Homo sapiens: one gene and its partner. The protein of the gene in region 1 purifies or fractionates together with the protein of each later gene. This does not show direct contact. Each region holds a gene or a part of one and is shown on either strand. Other genes may lie near its edges. The genes, in order: TEDC2 and RAI14.

Region 1 (4,294 bases):
GAGAGCTGCCCTGAGGAGGAGAGGAAGGCTGACTGCTCCCATAGGACGACTGGTGAGGACCCAGCACACTGGGGAGTGGCGTGGGAGGGGTGGAGGGGCCCACCAACTTGCATCTGGTCCCTGGGCTGCTCACCCTTCCCTGAGGCGCAGACAAGCCTGGCTAAAGCACCCTGTCCCCGGCCCAGACCTCAGTGCAGGTGGCAGGGTGGGGGCGGGGTCTCACCTGCACGCAGCTCCTGCAGCCTGTGCAGACACTGGCCCACCATGGCCTGCAGCCCCTCCAGCGTGAGCAGGCAGCGGTACTCCTGCATCCAGTCCATGGGGGCTGCAGAAGAGTCAGGGAGAGCAGGTGGGGCCCGTGGCAGTCTGGAAACCCTCCCTGCACTGGCCCTCCACACTCCTCCTGATACAGACCCAGGACCCACTGACCTGCCGAGAGCTCCTCCCTCATGCGCAGTCTCAGCAGCGAGCAGGCCTTCCGCAGGCGCCCCGCCTCCGCCTCCACCTCCACAGCACTGAGCCTGGGCTGGGGCCCGCCTGACTGGATATGGGTCAGGAAAACTTCCCTGCAGCCAAAGCCCCTCTGCTCCCACCAAGAACGGGGCCTGGGGAGTGGCCCTGGCCATCCCACGCCAGCCCCTCCTGGGGCTGCTCTGCAAACCTGCCAGGTTCAGAGCTAGAGGCCCCCAGGGCTCCCACAAGCCCAGCAAGGATACAGCTGTCTGCATGTTCTGGAGGAACTGGGTTTTGGCAGCGGCGGCATCCGTGGAATCACTGGTCTGTGTGGAACTGAGCTGGGCCCACAGGCTGGGGTGCACACGTGGGGTGCACAGAGGAACCACAGAGGGACACGGTTATTCCAGCCAGTAAGCTGGGCCTTGGGAGGTAGGCAAGGGCCAGGGTGGGGACCCCAGGCTGGGCGTCTGGCTCTGCTGAATGCCAGGAGGGGCCTCCAGAGGCCGCAGGGAACCAAGAGGACACTGACTAGGACAAGGGGACAAAGCTGACCGGCTGGCAGATTTTTAACATCGACAGTGATCCCACTCAGCAAAGAGGACAAAGAGACCCACTGGAAAGTATCTCGAACCTGTCCCCGAGCTGGTGATGCCTCCCGGTTCTCCCCTACCCCCGTCCAGCCAAAGACCTCAGCCTCACCTCGAGTTCTGGGAAGCTGCTTTCCTGAATGCCGCAGGCAGCCGCAGCAGGTGCCTGTCGGAGAAGCCCGTGTTCAGAGGAGCATCGCCTTGCTCTGGGGTCTACAAGTCCCACTTCCTGCTCAGAGCCCAATCAGGGATGAGGCTTCTTGCCCCTCTCCCACACCCGACCCCACCAAGGATGAGCCCCCTTGGATAGGGCTTCCAGAGTGGCCATAGGAGAAGCATCGTCCAGTGCTGCCCCATTAGAGAGAAGAGGGGGCCCTGTGAGCGGGGCCCTGTGAGCAGATCCCACGCCCTCCAGAGCCCATCTGGAGCCTCTGGCCTGGGCAAATAAGGGGACAGCCACAGAGAAGAGAGGAGGACAGGCTCCAGTACTTCCCTGACCTGATGGTGCCAACCTGGACACCACCACACAGCTGCTTCATTCTGCCAGCTTCTGAGCATGAGCCTCAGGGGTATGCCACAGGGCTCGATGCCCTGCCTTCCCTGTCACCCCAAATCCCAGGCTCCTTGCTAGCCAGGGTCTGAGGAGGCAGAGACAGAAGTCCCTCCAGTGAGGGTCCGGGAAACCTACCCCTTCTCCTTGAGTGTGAAGGCTTCTGGGGCCTGAGGAGCAGCGGATGGGGCCATTTGCTGGTCCCTGAGGCCCGCCCCAGGCCTGGGGGTTCGGGCTCCCATCCCAACACGGGTCCCATCCCCCACTGACAGCAGCCGGCGCTCAGGGTGGCCCTTGGCAGGCACCGTGGTCTGGCGGAGGCCCTTGGTGGGTCTCGTGTCTGAAGCATGGCCACCAGCTTGGCCTGGGGAATGCGGTGGGGCGGAGGCTGTCGTGCCAGAAGAGGTGACAATGGACCTAGATTTCAGGCTGGGGGCCTTGTCTCTCTCTCCGGCCTTAGTGATGCCTCTTCGAACTCGTACAGCCTTCTCCAGTGCCTGGGTCAGAAACTCCAACTCTTTGAGGTCTTGTGGACTGGGTGTGCATGCTGTGAAAGCCAAGAATTATGCAGGGATCTCTCCCCACTGTCCCCCAGGAGGGTTCCTCACAACTGCACGCCAGCAGACAGGCCAGAGCAGCACCTGGAGAAGGCGGGTGGTGGAGGTTTACCTGGAAGGGGGTCCTCTCCATTAGTTTCTGGCCCTGGAGGTGGCTTCAAAGCCCGGGTCCCAGTTGGTTCCCTGCAAAGACACGGGCAGCCGTCGCACGGCCAGGAGGCAGGGCCCAGCCCAAACAGACCCGAGGGGGCCGCCGGGCCCCGCGGCAGGCCCCCAGCTCAGAGCCTGCAGGGTAAGGAGGGTGGCACTGACAACCCACAGCTCCGAAGTGGGCGGCTGCGCCCGGTCTCCCAGCCCTGGGCGCTCGGGGCGGGACTCTGAGGGCCCGAGGGAGGTCTGGCCAGTGGGTCCGGGGTCCGCGTACCAGGCATGCAGCAGCCGACGGCAAACGCGCAGGCTCTGCTCCAATTGCAATTGTCGCTGTGCGCAGGCGTCCAGGGCGCCCTGCAGCTCGGCCACCAGCCTGGGGGACGCACCGGCGGCTCAGCACCTCGGCCAGCGTCGGGCCTCGGGCCCCGCGCCTGGCTACCGGCCCGCCCGCATCCTCCCACCCCCTCCTGCCGCGCAGGCCTCACCGGCGCGAGCAGCCCGCCGGCAGCATGAAGGCGGCGGCGTCTCCTTGCAATTTGCCGCCTCTGAAGAGCCACGCCCCTTCCGGGAGGGAAGGCCGCCCCTTCCCGGCCGGGCTGCCCAATCCTGAACCGGGGCTCAGGGGCCGCCCCCGAAGCTTTCTCTCCCTCCTTGCGGGCAAGCCTCAAGCCCCGCCCACTCCTGCCTCCCAGGTCTGACGGGGACTCCGGCTCGGAGCTGGGCCCCCGAGGCCGCCAGGGAGGTGACTGCGGGCGACGCCGGGATTTTGGTTTGGGTAACTGGGTAGATGGGGGCGCCATTATCGCGCTTCTCTTGCAGGGGGCCGGTGAAGGTTATACGAGAGGCTCCATCTGTCCTTATTGAAAGTGCTCTTAACGCAGGGACCAGCCGTCTTGCTGACGCCTGGGCCACCGAGCACAGGGACAGGACGGGGTTGCTGGAGGTGAGGATTCCGCGTGTCAGGGGCGGGGATGAAGGAGGAGAAAGTGTTCACTTTTGGACATGTGACGTGATAGCACTGGGCAGAGGGGAGGAAGCTCAGACCTTGGAGCAGTGGGCCAGGCGAGGTGGCCCCTGGTGGGGCAGGGGACGGGTAGGGACAGATCACGGGGCCCACGCAATGGCCAGGGAGGTGGAGGAGCAGTAGGACAGTGTCACAGAGGCAACAGGAGGCTGTCACGGGAGGGAGTGGGTCACAGGCCAAGTGCTGCTGAGGCCTCGGCGGTGTACACAGCACAGCAGGGGGGCGGGGGTACAGGGCCTTCGGTGATGCGGGGGACACCTGAGGGAGGAAGTGAGGAAGGCAGCAGGGCCCCATGTAGTTGGTGTTAACAAGAATAAACAATTAGGGGGCAAGAAATCCCAGGCGGTAGCTGAAAGAAAAACAGAGCCTGGGGTTGCTGTTTAAAGATGGGACAGGTGAGTCCATTCCATAGTCGTTAATGGGAAGGTGCCATCGCAGAGGGGAAGGAGGGCACAAAGGGAGTTGTCAGGGAGGTTGGGACCCAGGCAGCTCTGGCCCAGCGCTCCGGGTGGGCCCCTCCATCAGCGGTGGGGGAGGGTGACGGTGGCCCTGCCTCCCTGGAGATTCTCTGTGAAGGAGGAGGCAGGGAAATGCTCAGTCAGCAGGTGGGTGATGCAGGAACCCACCCACCACAGGCAGGCGGGGCCAGGTCCCCCTGGAGTGGTTTCCTCCTTCAGGTGCAAGCTGGGAGAAAGCAGAGAACTGACTCCATGCAGAGTTGGGATTAAGAGCCCCTGGACAAGGGGCCGAGGCAGTGAAGGACGTCCATCACTCATCTGCCACTATCCTCCTCACATTTAATCCTCACAACACCCCTGTGAGGTAGGTATCATTGCCCCCCTTACAGATGAGGAAACTGAGGCTCACACATGCCCAGGGGCACACAGTCGACAGGACGGGTCTACAGTTCCAACGCTTGGGTTCTCACCCCGACCACACCCCACCCAGGGTGGCCAGAATTCCCTTATAG
Region 2 (3,810 bases), on another chromosome or scaffold:
CACAGTCCAAAGAATGGAGGTGGGTTAGTTTGGTTAGTAAAGTCTGGGCAAGTAGCTTTATCAAACACATGAGAAAAACCTCAAAAGTTCATACATTTCTTACTTTATCAAAATCTGAAATCTGCTACCAACATAAAAATAAATAATATGCATGCACAAGTATTCTCCTAGCAGCCCATGCTTTAATAGCAAGAAAATAAAAACACATGAGACAAAACCAGATTAGGTTGGTGTGGAGAACTGGGAAAGTAGAGGTTGAGGTCTACTACAACTTAGAATCCAGAATACAATCACAGCCAGCTTTCTGTATTAATGAAAAGCAATGGTATTTCCCACACGTCTGCATTACTTCCATTCCTTTTTTTAAAGACTATAAATATGAGGGAAAGGGATAACTTCATTTTTGAAGGTTACTGGTAAGTAATACAGTTAGCACATAAATTTAGTATTGAGTATTTGCTGTTTATGATTTCTTCAAGAACGTAGATGTGTAAATAAATAAACAACCAAACATATACTGTTCATCAAAAAAACAGATAGTGACAATATATTTTTAGAAAAAACTACACAATAACAGGGCAAACTCAATTTCTACTTTGTGTAACACCACATGACGTTCTAGAAAAACCCTAATTAAAAGAAAAGGCTAAATTCTCTTATTTTCATTAAATAGCTAACATTTTCTGGCTGAAGCTCTGTAGCTCATGTGATATTACAAGTATTTAAAACAGTGTTATTCAGTCACAGAGTTTAAGCCACATCAAACATTTTCACACCAATAGGAAGTATGAGTTAGTACATTTCAGAAAAAGATGAACATATAAGTAGCAAGTTTAAAGTTACATGCTTTTGAAATAAAGCAAATTATTAAGGAAAGCTTTACCACCTTTTTTTTTTGAGACGGAGTTTCACTCTTGTTGCCCAGGATGGAGTGCAATCGTGCAATCTCAGCTCACCGCAACCTCTGCCTCCTGGGTTCAAGTGATTCTCCTGCCTCAGCCTCCCGAGCAGCTGGGATTACAGGCACGCACCACCATGCCCGGCTAATATTGTAATATTAGTAGAGGCGGGGTTTCTCCATGTTGGTCAGGGTGGTCTTGAACTCCCGACCTCAGGTGATCCACCAGCCTCGGCCTCCCAAAGTGCTGGGATTACAGGCGTGAGCCACCGGCCCGGCCTGGCAACCTTTAACACCTTATAACAATGACTTATTTATTCAAAGATATTTCAGTCCCTAAGTATTTTCAATATAGTCTTTATTACTTTACTAGTGGACCAGAGTGGTTAAATCTGAACATTTTTAAATTCCCACAAGCATAAATGAAACATAGAAGCCTCCCCCAAAGATAAATACCTGCTTTGGTTTTGTTGGGGTCTTTAAATCTATAGAGGAAAAAGTGAAAAAAAGAACTATAAGAAGCATAATGATTCATATTCACTTTGGGTGGGGGGATACACACACATACACCATATACAATATTTTTTAACACTCCTTTTTTTTTCAAGAATATGTTTAAAAGAATAATAAAATATATCATATTGCACACATTCCTTTATCCTTTGGGGAAAATGGAGTGGATAAACTTAAAACAACATTGGCTATTTTCTTTTACATACCAGCATCCTGAGAGATTTTTGATAATAGAAGGCTTTGAATTCCTGCATTTTCTGAGAGTTTGGAATAATGTAAGGCATTGTATCCAAGAGAATCTACAAGGTTTAGGTCTGCACCCTTTTTAATTAAGGCTTCCACAGCGTTAGAGCTGCCAATCTCACAGGCCAGCATGAGAGCAGTTCTAAAGGAAAAAAGAGACACAAAATTAGTACTAAGAGAATGTAAAAAGTCTTTCTTGGGAAATCAGTTGTCTTAAAAAAAGAGAAAAGAAGATTAAGTGCAGTTAAACCTTTATTACACTTAATCTTCAGGGAATTCGAAGTGGAATGCAATCAAGATGAAATTAGGTGGTTTTTTTTTTTTTTAAACTTCAGATTAAATCAAAACATTAAACCACATTTTGTCAAACAACACAATCTTCTATACTATTTGGCATAATATGATGGGATTTAATATGACTGGCATGAATCTTATCCTTGTTTTACCTCAAGCATTTTAAATAACATATATATTTCTAAGACCATTTCTCCAAAACAACCAATAGGTTTGTTTTATTTTGCATAGAAAGTCACAGGAAATTGTTTATTCACATTAGCATTTAATAGTCTCCTCACAGACTTAGCCAGCAATGATGTCCACAGATGTCTGGGGAAAATTGCTTTAAAGTCAACATAGATTCTTGATTATCAGAAACAGTAGAACTTTAAAAAGGTAAGAAGTTAAAAATCCCTTATAACAAATGATCCAAAATATAGCTGTGATATTTTGAAATACTCTCAGAATGTGGGTATCACTGAAGTCACATGATTTCTGCCTAATTCTGGAGTACCTTCCACTTTTGTTCCTGGAATTGACATCTGCTCCATGATCCAGGAGAAAGTGACAGATCTCACTGTGACCATTTTGTACAGCAAGAAGCAGCGGTATATTCCCATCCTAGGAGACAAATTCAGATTTAGATTTTACCTCAGGCACAAAATGCCAGAATTGCAAAAGTCAGCCCCTGTTTTTTGCACATTTTTCTCCTGACTTGGACTGCTGACTGCTGATCTAGTATCTGGTCCAACCTGATATTCTGTACCCCTATAGAGTCACGATTGTATGTTGGCACAACTCTTGTTATGGAATTTTACTGAATGCTAGCTTTTACATAGGAGCTCCAGCTTCTTGCGGCTGCTTATGCCCTTGGCTATCACTGTTTGGGTGACTGTGAGAGAGGACAGAACACAAAGTGTGTAAAGGCTCAAGGCAAGTGTACCGGGTATACTGAGGGACGGTGCTGGAGAAAGGAAGGGCGTGTCTCCGCACGACACCAGAAGATCCCACTGCCCTGTAGGCAGCTTATTCCCAGTGCACTAATCATTATATATCCTGCCATTCCACTTTTACCGAAAGTGTACCCTTTAGTAATCTTGCTATGTATCAAAATATAACATAAATTAAGAGCCTATGTCTGTTACTAACACATGACTAGATAAAGAAATGGATAGAAAGAATAATTATGTCATGACAATTGCAACCCCTTTGGGAAAAAGGAAATCTAGGTCTCCAACTCATATACAAACTATGTCAGGTGGATTAAGCATTTAAACATTACAATATAAAACAAATGATGAAAAATACTAGAAGAATATACATAAGTATTTTTTGTAATCTTAGGTCTGACACAAACCATAAAGAGAAGTTGTTATTTTGTTTTTTTTCTGGAATATACCCTATAAATCCATCGACAGTGAGTTTTAAGGTAGAAGCATTCAATAGGCAAAGGGAAAAGATGTTACAATATATCCAACTATTTAAAAATACAAGTGCTACTTAAAGATTGAGTATTGTCATAAAGAATTTCAGATAGATTTCTGGGCACTATCTCTGTGAAGTTATACTACTTTCTGCTTAGGAAGTACTGAACTTCAAGGAATATGAATTTATTTACAGATTCTATCTAGTCACTTCACAGCATCTCCATCAAATATAAGTGTATGCATGTCAGTTCTCATGCTGCAACATGAAATATAACCCCATGACAGAACCATGTGATAGGTATATAAATTTATTCTCAAAGTAGCCTGGTGAAGTTAAAATAGCCTAGTAATGGTCTTCAAAGTTGGGAGATTCTACGTAGAAGTTATCCAAGTGCAGAAAGAAAGTAGTAAAATTTCTATTTAGACTTATTTTTAAAAATCAAGAAATTAAGC

Evidence for each region.
Region 2: the proteins of TEDC2 (region 1) and RAI14 purify together in Homo sapiens (affinity purification with mass spectrometry; one large-scale study listed by BioGRID and IntAct). This does not show direct contact.

The regions. Positions count from the first base shown.
Region 1 is NC_000016.10:2,458,662-2,462,955, reverse strand, and holds the start of TEDC2 (tubulin epsilon and delta complex protein 2), read right to left. Parts: upstream 2,848-4,294; 5' UTR 2,812-2,847; coding exon 2,786-2,811; intron 2,674-2,785; coding exon 2,575-2,673; intron 2,334-2,574; coding exon 2,263-2,333; intron 2,141-2,262; coding exon 1,732-2,140; intron 1,210-1,731; coding exon 1,156-1,209; intron 808-1,155; coding exon 717-807; intron 542-716; coding exon 430-541; intron 326-429; coding exon 224-325; intron 1-223. UniProt on the Homo sapiens protein: Acts as a positive regulator of ciliary hedgehog signaling. Required for centriole stability.
Region 2 is NC_000005.10:34,809,753-34,813,562, reverse strand, and holds part of RAI14 (ankycorbin), read right to left. Parts: intron 2,552-3,810; coding exon 2,445-2,551; intron 1,797-2,444; coding exon 1,618-1,796; intron 1,384-1,617; coding exon 1,355-1,383; intron 1-1,354. UniProt on the Homo sapiens protein: Plays a role in actin regulation at the ectoplasmic specialization, a type of cell junction specific to testis. Important for establishment of sperm polarity and normal spermatid adhesion.